2 separate regions of the Homo sapiens genome follow, and region 2 is linked to region 1. The links come from fine-mapping of genetic effects on gene expression. Tissue or cell type: monocytes. Region 1 holds a variant in brackets; the other region holds the start of a gene. All regions are shown on one strand. Distances are between the middles of the regions.

The links. PIP is the estimated chance that this variant, and not a neighbour inherited with it, causes the effect.
Region 2: CDK5RAP3 starts here. The variant in region 1 is fine-mapped to the expression of CDK5RAP3 in monocytes (Fairfax 2014, PIP 0.95).

What each region holds. Positions count from the first base shown.
Region 1 is chr17:48,016,636-48,022,502 of GRCh38, reverse strand. No RefSeq gene overlaps it. Among named protein-coding and RNA genes, the nearest start is that of MIR10226, 13 kb to the left of the region's middle. RefSeq lists an enhancer at 4,700-4,799. The variant TG/G (reference allele first, on the strand shown) is at 2,819.
Region 2 is chr17:47,969,058-47,974,057 of GRCh38, reverse strand. It overlaps CDK5RAP3 (CDK5 regulatory subunit associated protein 3), which reads right to left and starts at 2,945. Exons shown (of 14, transcript NM_176096.3): 1 at 2,906-2,945; 2 at 2,651-2,696; 3 at 408-539; 4 at 27-127. The coding sequence starts at 2,911. RefSeq lists an enhancer at 1,956-2,583 and a silencer at 3,005-3,294.

The sequences.
Region 1 (5,867 bases):
CTCATCTGTTTCCTAATCTCTTCCTCATCTCTATGAACAGAAACTGGTAAACATGTTAGATGAGTTTCTAAATAAATAAGAGTGTGAGACACATGTAAATTTTATACTGCACATATAGATTAACGCCATTCCTCAAAATGCACCCTTTGGTAAGAAAAGCAACGTTAATAATAATAATAAAATAAACTCTTTTGGAATGAATTCGTTCAACAGACATTTACTAACAGGCTGTTTCCAGGCCAGGTACCTTGCTGGGGATTGTTGGGAGCTTCTAAAATGAATTGGGAAACACAGTTCCTGACTCAAGGAGATTACAATTTGGCTGGGGACAAAGTCATGTATGCAGATAAGGAAATGATAAATATTCACAGAGGAAACGGTGTATTACATAACATGTAAAGAAGGAAGATGGGGAAAGAGACACCCCAAAGGGAGCAACAACATAAGCAAGGCCAGAGGTAAGGAATCTCCGTTTAGGCTGGGCGCAGTGGCTCATGCCTGTAATCTCAGCACTTAGGAAGGGTGAGACAGGCAGGTTGCTTGAGTCTGGGAGTTCGAGACCAGCCTGGGCAACATGGCAAAACCCTGCCTCTACAAAAAAAAAAAAAATTAGCTGGGTGTAGTGGTGTGTGCCTGTAGTCCCAGCTACTGGGGGGAGAGGGGGCACCGTGGGCTGAGGTGGAAGGATCACTTGAGTCCAGGAGGCTGAGGCTGCTGTGAGCTGAGATCATGCCACTGCACTCCAGCCTGGAGGACAGAGCAAGACCCTGTCTAAAAAAAAAAAAAAAAAAAAAAAAAAGAAAAAGAAAAAAAATCTCTGTATTGTTTAAGGAATTTCAGTAGGCAAATGTAACTGGAATGGTGTGTGTCTGCAGGGAGTGTGTTGAGATCTGAGGTTTCTTCTAGATAGGTTGCAACTGGGTCGCAGTGAGCAATGAATGCCATGCTGAAGAATGACTGCTATTTATTGAGTTTGCTACTATATACACCTTAAAATTACCATTGTCCTCAAAACAACCTAACAAAGTAGGTATTGATAGGCTCGCTGCAGCCTCAACCTCCGGGGCTCAAGCTATCCTCTTACCTCAGTCCCCCGAGTAGCTGGGACCACAGGCATGTACCACCACACCCAGCTAATTTTTAAAAATTTTTTAATAGACACGAGGTCTCACCATGTTGCCCAGGCTGGTCTCAAACTCCTGAGCTCAAGCGATCTGTCCACTTTGGCCTCCCAAAGTGTTGGGTATACCGCGCCTGGCCCGTTAGCCTTCTTTTTACAAATGAGAGAGCTGAGAGTCTGAGAGACTGAATAACTTGCCTCAGAGCTCATAGGTGGGATTTAAACCCATTCTGGTCTGACTCCATTGCTGGCTCTTCTTTACCCCAACCACAGAGCTAAAGAACTTGGCTTGTGGCCAGTCGCCATGGCTCACACCTGTAATCCCAGTACTTTGGGAGGACAAGGTGGGTGGATCACCTGAGATCGAGACCAGCCCGACCAACATGGAGAAACCCTGTCTCTACTAAAAATACAAAATTAGCAGGGTGTGGTGGTGCATGCCTGTAATCCCAGCTACTCGGGAGGCTGAGGCAGGAGAATCGCTTGAACCCAGGAGGCAGAGGTTTCGGTGAGCCAAGATCGTGCCATTACACTTCAGCCTGGGCAACAAGAACGAAACTCCATCTCAAAAAAACAAAACAAAACAAAACAAAAAGTCAGTAAAGAACTTGGCCTGTGTTCTGAAGGTAATAGGGAACCACTGAAGATTTTCAAGCTGTTAAGTGATATCAGCTCTATGTTTTGAGGGAGGAACTCTGCTAGCAACATGGAACCTGGGTTAAAGAAGAGAACAGGAATTCAGGGTCAATTTATGACCCCCAAAACGAAATATTTTCATTACAGTCACTTCTCATTCTTGATCTAAAACAGTACCACCCAGCTTGATTGCTGATCTTACTCACCAAGCAGCTTGCAAAAATCAAGTCCACTCTCAGAATTTGAAGAGTTGGTGCTTGAATTAATTCAGATAATTGCAGGCAATCATTCCAAAAAAGGCCCTCCAAAAGGACCATTTTGTCAGGGACAATGATCTGAATATTTAGGTTCTGAAAAGTATGTTTAAAAATAACAAGTCGGCCGGGCACGGTGGCTCATGCCTGTGATCCCAGCACTTTGGGAGGCCAAGGCAGGTGGATCACAAGGTCAGGAGTTCAAGACCAGCCTGGCCAAGATGGTGAAACCCCCGTCTCTACTAAAAATACAAAAAAAAAAAAAAAAAAAATTAGCCAGGCATGGTGGCAGGTGCCTGTAATTCCAGCTACTCGGGAGGCTGAGGCAGGAGAATTGCTTGAACCCGGGAGGTGGAGGTTTCAGTGAGCTGAGATTGCACCATTGCACTCCAGCCTGGGCAACAAGAGCGAAACTCCGTCTCAAAAAAACAAAAAACAAACAAACAAAAAAAAACACAAGTCTACTTTATATCTTATATATTTAGTGCCCTCTTATCACTCTCACGTACCCCACTCTGAAAATAGACACATACACTTCAAATGAAAGAAAAAGAAGTAGCAAGAGGGATCTGATTCCATTTGACCAGATCCACAATTTCTCTTTGTCTAGACATCTGATTTTTTTTTTTTTTTTTTGAGACTGGGTCTTGCTCTGTCACCCAGCCTGGAGTGCAGTGGCATGAATACGGTTCACTGCAGCCTTGATTTCCTGGGGAGAAGTGATCCTCCTACTTCAGCTTCCCATGTAGCTTGGACTATAGGTGCACACCACGACACCTTGCTTTTTTTTTTTTTGCTTTTTTTTTTT[TG/G]GTAGGGAGATGGGGGTCTCACTTTGTTGTCCAGGCTGTTCTCAAACTCCTGGGCTCAAGTGATCCTCCTGCCTCAGCCTCCCAAAGTGCTGGGATTACAGGATTGAGCCGCCATGCCTAGCCTTTTTTTTTTTTCCTAAGGGACAGAGTTTTGCTCTGTCGCCTAGGTTGGAGTACAGTGGCGTGATCATGGCTCACTGCAGCCTCAACCTCCAGGTAGCTGGGACTACAGGCACATGCCACCACACCCGGCTAATTTTTTGTTTATTGTAGAGACAGGATTTTGCCATGTTGCCCAGGCTGGTCTTGAACTCCTGGACTCAAGCGATCCACCCAAGTCAGCCTCCCAAAGTGCTGGGATTACAGGCATGAGCCATCACAGCCAATCCAGACACCTGATTTTTAAGAGATTGAAAATATGTGTTTTACTCTCATGGCTGCCAGTGAGCCCTCATCTGAAACAAACAAACAAATAAACTTGAGGATAGAAGAAAACTCTGGAAGTGATGAGGCTATAACCTTGCTTCCAGACAACAGCTTCTTAGTGAGTGACAGGGTGTTCTGGGGTGGGGATATATGGGGTGAGTAGGTGAGGACTCAGGTTCTGGGTGGAATGATTGGAAGACTGGTTTCAGCTGCTTACCATTCCTAGCAGCCTTGTGTTTGGAAGGTTGGAGGGCTCTTGGAACATCCTCTCCTAAGAGATGGCTGGAAAAGTCCAGAATTAATTTATCTTGGGGAAACAGGTAAGATAAAAACTTCTGGAATCGGCCGGGCGTGGTGGCTCACACCTGTAATCCCAGCACTTTGGGAGGCCGAGGTGGGCAGATCACGAGGTCAGAAGTTTGAGACAAGCCTGACCAACATGGTGAAACCCCGTCTCTACTAAAAATACAAAAATTAGCTGGGCATAGTGACGTGCGCCTCTGGTCCCAGCTACTCAGAGGCTGAGGCAGGAGAATCGCTTGAACCCGGGAGATGGAAGTTGCAGTGAGCCAAGATCGCACCACTGCACTCCAGCCCTGGGTGACAGAGCGAGACTCCATCTCAAACAAACAAACAAACAAAACTTCTGGGACCCAAAGTCCCCCAAAATCTCAGTGTTCTCCAGATGGCAGCAAGAAGAAGTAGCTCTCACAGGTTTGCCCAGAAGATGGTGCTGTAAGACAAGCCCCTCTTTCATCCTTAGCCTGGCCGGGATCAGTGACGGGACTATGAAAAGGCTTGCAGGAACCAGACCTAGAGGGCATCTCTACTCTCTATTGGGCAGGAGTTATCTCACAGTGCTGAGCATTGCAGTCCATTCCTAGATACTCCCTAGACCACAGAGGAGAACCTTGGGGGTTCCCACATCAGAGCTGTGAGCACCTCCATGGGAACACGAAGGTGAGAGACCCTGGGCACCTGGGACAGCAATTGTCCTGAGAAAACAGGGCCTCTGATCAAGAAACACTGTCAAGAAATACAGACCTGGCTGGGCATGGTGTCTCGCTCCTGTAATCCCAGCACTTTGGGAGGCCGAGGTGGGCAGATCACTTTAGGTCAGGAGTTCGAGACCAACATGGCCAACATGGTGAAACCCTGTTTCTACTAAAAATACAAAAATTAGCTGGGCATGGTGACACATGCCTGTAATCCCAGCTACTCGGGAGGGTGAGGCAGGAGAATTGCTTGAACCCAAGAGATGGAGGTTGCAGTGAGCCGAGACTGCGCCACTGCACTACAGCCTGGGTGATGGAGTGAGACTCTGTCTCAAACAAACAAACAGAAAACAAATACAGACCTTTTCCTCCAACTCTGGAGATTTGGACCCATTCCCCAAGGTAGCTGGGAGGTTGAGGAAGGGGTCTGAGGGGCTTGGGCACTGACTGAAGTTTATACTCTAAGGTAGAAAAAAAAAAGTGGATCTTTCTGGGAGAGCAAGCTAGAGGCCTTCAGATTAGGAAAGTGAAACTCAAAGGTTGACTTACCCAATGTCACACAGCTAACAAGGGACAGAACTGAGACAAGAAAGAGGGTTTCCTGGAACCCTCTTACCTCTTCCTCTTTCTGCCCTGTGTTTTCTGCAGATCATGAGAATATAACGTTTATAAATAGAATTCCCTTGACAAGGAGTGCCTTCCTGGGCAGTAAGAAAAAATAGCAGGGCTCTTGACTCAAAACCCCAATGCACATTTTTCTTTGCATGCTTTTTTTTTTTTTAACAGTCTCACTCTATCACCCAGGCTAGTGTACAGTGGCACAGTCTCTGCTCACTGCAACCTCCACCTCCCAGGTTCAAGTAATTCTCCTGCCTCAGCCTCTTGAGTAGCTGGGATTACAGGCACCTGCCACCATGCCTGGTTAATTTTTGTATTTTTAGTAGAGACGGGGTTTCACCATGTTGCCCAGGCTGGTCTCGAACTCCTGAGCTCAAGCAATCTGCCCACCTCGGCCTCCCAAAGTGCTGGGAGCCACCATGGCTGGCTCCAATAGCGTTTTCTAATTTTTATTTTATTTATTTATTTATTTATTTATTTATTTATTTATTTATTTATTGAGACAGAATCTTGCTCTGTCGCCCAGGCTGGAGTAAGTGGCGCCATCCTGACTCACTGCTGCATGTGCCTCCTGGGTTCAAGTGATTCTCGTGCTTCAACCTCCCAAGTAGCTGGGACTAGAGGCACACAACACCATGCCCAGCTAATTTTTGTATTTTTAGTAGAGACAGGGTTTCACCATATTGGCCAGGCTAGTCTCAAACTCCTGACCTCAAGTGATCCTCCCGCCTTGGCCTCCCAAAGTGCTGGGATTACCGACATAAGCCACCACGCCCAGCACGTCTGTTTTTTAAATAATGAAATTAATAAGTGAGTCCCATCAGCTGCACTTCTTTTCTGAGGATAATTTATATACAAGACACAGAAAAGCTTCTTGCACAATGTTCTTTTAATAGGATTTATGTAAACTCACATTTGTCAGGATCCGTAAAAGTATTCTATTTCTTTCACACATGTAATTTTTTTGTACCTCTATCTCAGTGAAGGAGGCAGGCGTTGTCATTCCCAC
Region 2 (5,000 bases), 48 kb after region 1:
ACTACCGGCCCTTGGCCCACACTTGCCTTCATCCGCTGTGAAGAGTATCGGCCAAAAATATTCTTCGTGGAGGCCTCTGTGCCTTTGAGAAGGTCCAGGATTCTTAGGCAGTGAAAGTAGTGAATGTCTAGAAAGCAAGAGACGGGATTTCGAGAACTAAAGTATCTTCTTCACCTACTCTGGGCACTGCAGGTGGCTGATTCATGTATAATATACTGCCAGTAACTTTAGTGTGTAGCTTTTCCCTAAATCATTTCATAGTGGAAGAAGCCAGCATCTATACCTCAAATAAAAATCGCTCCCTCTCTAAAGGCCAGCCCTGGTGGCTAAATAACAAGAGAGTAGCTCAGCTGATACATACTACCTCAGCAAAGAGGGGACTCCAGTGACAGCCCCTAAGCACTCACAGGACCCAGACAGCAGCTGGGCGATCTCTTCGCTCTCTGGCATGTCCTGGATGGCAGCATTGATCTTCTCGCGGATCGTCAGCACCAGACTCTGCCATTTCAGGCTGCAGTGCCTTCTGTCCACCAGCCAATCTACATGAGAAGCACCCAAATTAGAGCATTCCCATTCACATCACCAAAATTCCATCACTAATTCGAGTGAAATACACTGAAATTAGTCTAAAAGTTTTCTTTACATTGGTTAAAGTATGGGGGTCATGGGAAGATGGGAATAAAGACAAGCCCAAAGAGATGCCTGGGGCTAAACCAGGCTCTGACAATCTGACTTCATTAGCAGTGTGATTTTTATAGAGCAATTGCCTCAACACAGGGATAACAAAAAGTTTAAATTGGTCCTGAAAGTGCCACTTTTGACCATTCTCAATTCCCCATAATATTTTTGCTTCTATGGGTAATTATATCTTTCTTCCTGACAAGAGGATGCTGCTCAACTTCCATTTCCTCAGGGCTGGGGTTAACCATGACAATGGAAAATACAAGATGGTTATGCCAAGTACTGGATGAATGAACAGCTGCAAAGCCCCTAATACCTACAGCGCCCTAAGGACTAGATAACATGACTCTGTTGTGAACAGTGAAGTACCACCCTGTACATGTGAATACCAATGGGACTGACCTCTCAAAGTCTGGGCCCAGATTTGTGGCTTCAGAGCCATGCATATTTCCTCAGTGAGAGCTAAGAGCTGAGCTTTGTGGTCAGATGGTCCTGGGTTCTCGTTATCAAGTTTCTTGAGCAAGTCTACTATTCTGTGCCTCAGTTTTCCCACATGTAAAATGGGGAATAATAAGACACTGACTAGAAAAGGGAATGCAGGTAAAACACTGAACAGTGTGCCTGAGACACGGCAAGGACTCAAAAAATGACAGTGATCATTTTTATCATGTCAAGTGCCTAAAACAGCACCTGGTACAAAAAAAAACCCTCAATGAATGGTGGTCATTTTATTGGTCCTTTTCATGACCAAGAACAAGCTCACACACCAAGACTGCACATGGGCTGAAGGGCCAGTACAAATCTGAAGGGAGGCTAAAGAAGCTTCCCCCGTGACCACCAAGCAGGACTGACTAAATGGCACTACAGAGTGGTGAATTCAGAACTTGAACTCTGCCAACCGGTCAAACGCTGGGGTCCCACACTAGTATCAGTTATACTCTCTCTGCTATATTCCTGTAAAGTTTTCAGAAAGAAAAATTCTGTTGATGTCACAGAACTAGAAGCAACGGACTGGGGTAGTCAAACAGACACCATCTTAAGGACAAGATTGGCATCAAATCCATGAATCCAATAAGCATTTTAAAATGCCAGGAGCTGTGTGATCAGATGAAGAGGCCTTCCCTGACTATGAACTGGGGAGGAAGTATGTAAGCCCCATACAGACAACCTGGAGATGGCCTGGACACTAAAAGGTTTTCATTTGCAACTGGGTCTTAGGTCCCTCTTCCTCCTAAAATCAAGGGGGAGGTGGAAGCTTTTTAAATGAGGTTTTTTTTTTTTTTCCTGGCATAATGCAAAAGGCATGGACAGTGGGTCAGACAGACTTAAGTTCCAATTCAGATGTGCCACTTAGTGGTTGACTGTTTTTTGTCTTCTTTTTGAGATGGAGTTTCGCTCTCGTTGCCCAGGCTGGAGTGCAATAGTGAGATCTCTGCTCACCGCAACCTCTGCCTCCGGGGTTCAAGCAATTCTCCCACCTCAGCCTCCCGAGTAGCTGGGATTACAGGCATGTGCTCCCATGCCCGGCTACTTTTTATTTTTATTTTTTTGTATTTTTAGTCATGGAGACATGGAGACAAGGTTTCTCCATGTTGGTCAGGCTGGTCTCGAACTCCTGACCTCAGGTGATTCGCCCACCTCGGCCTCCCAAAGTGCTGGGATTACAGGCATGAGCCACCGCGCCCGGCAGTGGTTGACTGTTTTTAAAGCGAGTCATTTATCCTGTCCCTGAATGATACGATAACATATGTTATTAAAGGAGAAAACGCAGGTCAAACAGACTGTACATATGGTTCGTTCCCGCTGCTATCAGGGAAGCAGGTCTGGCCACAGATGGGGCATAGAACGAGGCCAGTGGTCAGCATCTCGACTCAGGCTTTCAGGGGTCAGAGCTCCCGGCTATTGGACACAGGGGGCAACGCACAGGCCTCCCCCCGACAGCCAGCTGCGCGGTGGCGCCCCCTCCTACCGAGCAGCTTGCTGGTCTGGATGTCGATGGGCACGTGCTGATGGTCCTGGCGGGAAACACGGTGAGGAGGGGGGCGTGAGCGCGGAGAGAGGACGTACCACTCGCGCGCTCATTTCAACGTCCCAACCACCACCCTGCAGGGCCAGAACGGGGCCAGAGCGATGGGCTGGGTTGAGCCGCTTCCGGAGGGAGACCGGAGACACAGGTTAGGGGTCCGCGGCCAGTCCCCAGCACACCCAGCTCCTGTCCCCACACCTCCATCTTTCCTCCACTTCCGCTTCAGGCTGGAGACTGTGGCCCGCCCCGCCCTACCACCAATCCAGTGGCGTTGTGGCCGAGCCTCCGTTTAGACACAAACGGGCATCCTTCGGCCACGTCGCCGCCTTCCGTACAGCCAATCAGGGTTTACGCTCCACTCAGGCCTCAAGCCCCGCCCACCCCAGGCTCCGAATGGCTGAGCTCGGGAGGGGCGGGAGAATGGAGACAGCCAATTGGAGACGCGAGGCGGGCTCAGGGCAGGGGACGGGAGGGGGTGCGCTGCAGCGGCCGTGGGATTGCGACAGGCGGCGCTCGAGAGCCCAGCCTGGCAGCCGCTTCCCCTGGCGGGCACTGGGTCTTCTCCACGCAGATTGAGACGTCTGCTGGCGGGGTCCTAGCGCCGATCTGGGAGGCCGTTGCAAATACCTTCTTCCCTCCTTGCGTCGCTTTACCATCCAGAGCAGTGTGCAGGTCTCTTGTGGCACTTGTCATGCTTTGCCTCCTCATTCAGTTTCTCTAATAGACATGGTTGAGCACCTGCAACGTGTTGGGCGATTAGGGCAGGGAAGGGGAAGGAAGAGAGTCGGTGAGACGTCCCAAAGAGAACACCTACATTGAGTCTAAACGAAGAGCTGAAGATAGCTGGGTGATGTGGGAAGAGGAGTTTTAGGTGGAGGAGACTACACAGACAAAGCTTAGGTGGCCACAAACTGCAAGAGGGGTGCAAGCAACAACAGGCAGGCAGGACGGGCAACGTAATTTGTGAGGTCCAGTGCAAAATGGAAATGCACAGCTGCTTGTTACAAAATGATGAAGAATTTCAAGATGAAGTCGGCTCCGCGGGCAGGCCAACCTCTATACCGTAGATGGTTTGAGGCAGCGAGTGGCTAGAGGAGAGGCTGTAAGGGTGGAAAGGCCATATCAAAGGGAGACTTATTAAGGAACTTGGACTTCATCCCTTCAGACAGAGGAATCACAGAAGGGGTTTGAGGCAGGGAGGAACCTGTACAGATAGGCTGCTGGGATGATGGATGCATGGGAGATAAGACTGGGGACAAGGAGGCTGGAAGGAGGTTGTTATCGAGGGATTATAGCCTGAGCTGGGACACAAGATATGAGGAGGAAGGGGAAGGGCTGGATCTGAGGAATATTTAGGAGGAAAATGTATAGGACTTGGCAATTGATTGGCTGTTTGGGTGGAGGAGAGAGACACTAAGGATGACACCTAGGTGATTAGGTGGGAACCACCACCTGAGACAGGGATGCAGGATGCTGAGCAGGTGTTGGGGAGGAGGGGGTCTAGCTTTGAACCTAGTCTGGCAATGCTGGGAGACCCCCAGATGGAAAGTGTGCAGAAGGCACTTGGGTCTATAATTTTGGAGTTCGAGGGAGTTGTCGGGGCTGGAGATACAGCTTGGAGAGTCACAAGCTGGCTAATCTGTGGTCCGAGTGGTGGCTGAAGCTAAGGGAGAGTCTGAGATTGGCCAAGAAGTGGGTAGAGTAAGGAGGGAGGGTAGGCTGAGGCCAGATCCCCCAGGATCTCACAGCGCTGGGTATGCCTTTTCTTTTTTTTTTTTTTTTTTTTTTTTTTTTGAGACGGAGTCACGCTCTGTCGCCCGGGCTGGAGTGCAGTGACACGATCTCGGCTCACTGCAAGCTCTGCCTCCTGGGTTCACGCCATTCTCCTGCCTCAGCCTCCCCAGTAGCTGGGACTACAGGCGCCCGCCACCACGCCCGGCTAATTTTTTTGTATTTTTAGTAGAGACGAGGTCTCACCGTGTTAGCCAGGATGGTCTCGATTTCCTGACCTCGTGATTCTCCCGCTTCAGCCTCCTAAAGTGCTGGGATTACAGGCGTGAGCCACCGCGCCCGGCCCTGGGTATGCCATTTCTAAATATTCCTTCCCCAGCTCCTGTTCACCACAGCACAACACTTGAGGCTTAGTAAATTTTTGATTGAAATGCATAGTGTGATACAGCAGCAGGAAGACCTAGATTCTGCCCAGTGAGGTCTTGGACCATTTCTATAACCTATCTGATAGCCACAGTTTCCCCACATGGAGATAACAGCTATCCTATCTCAGGGTATTTCT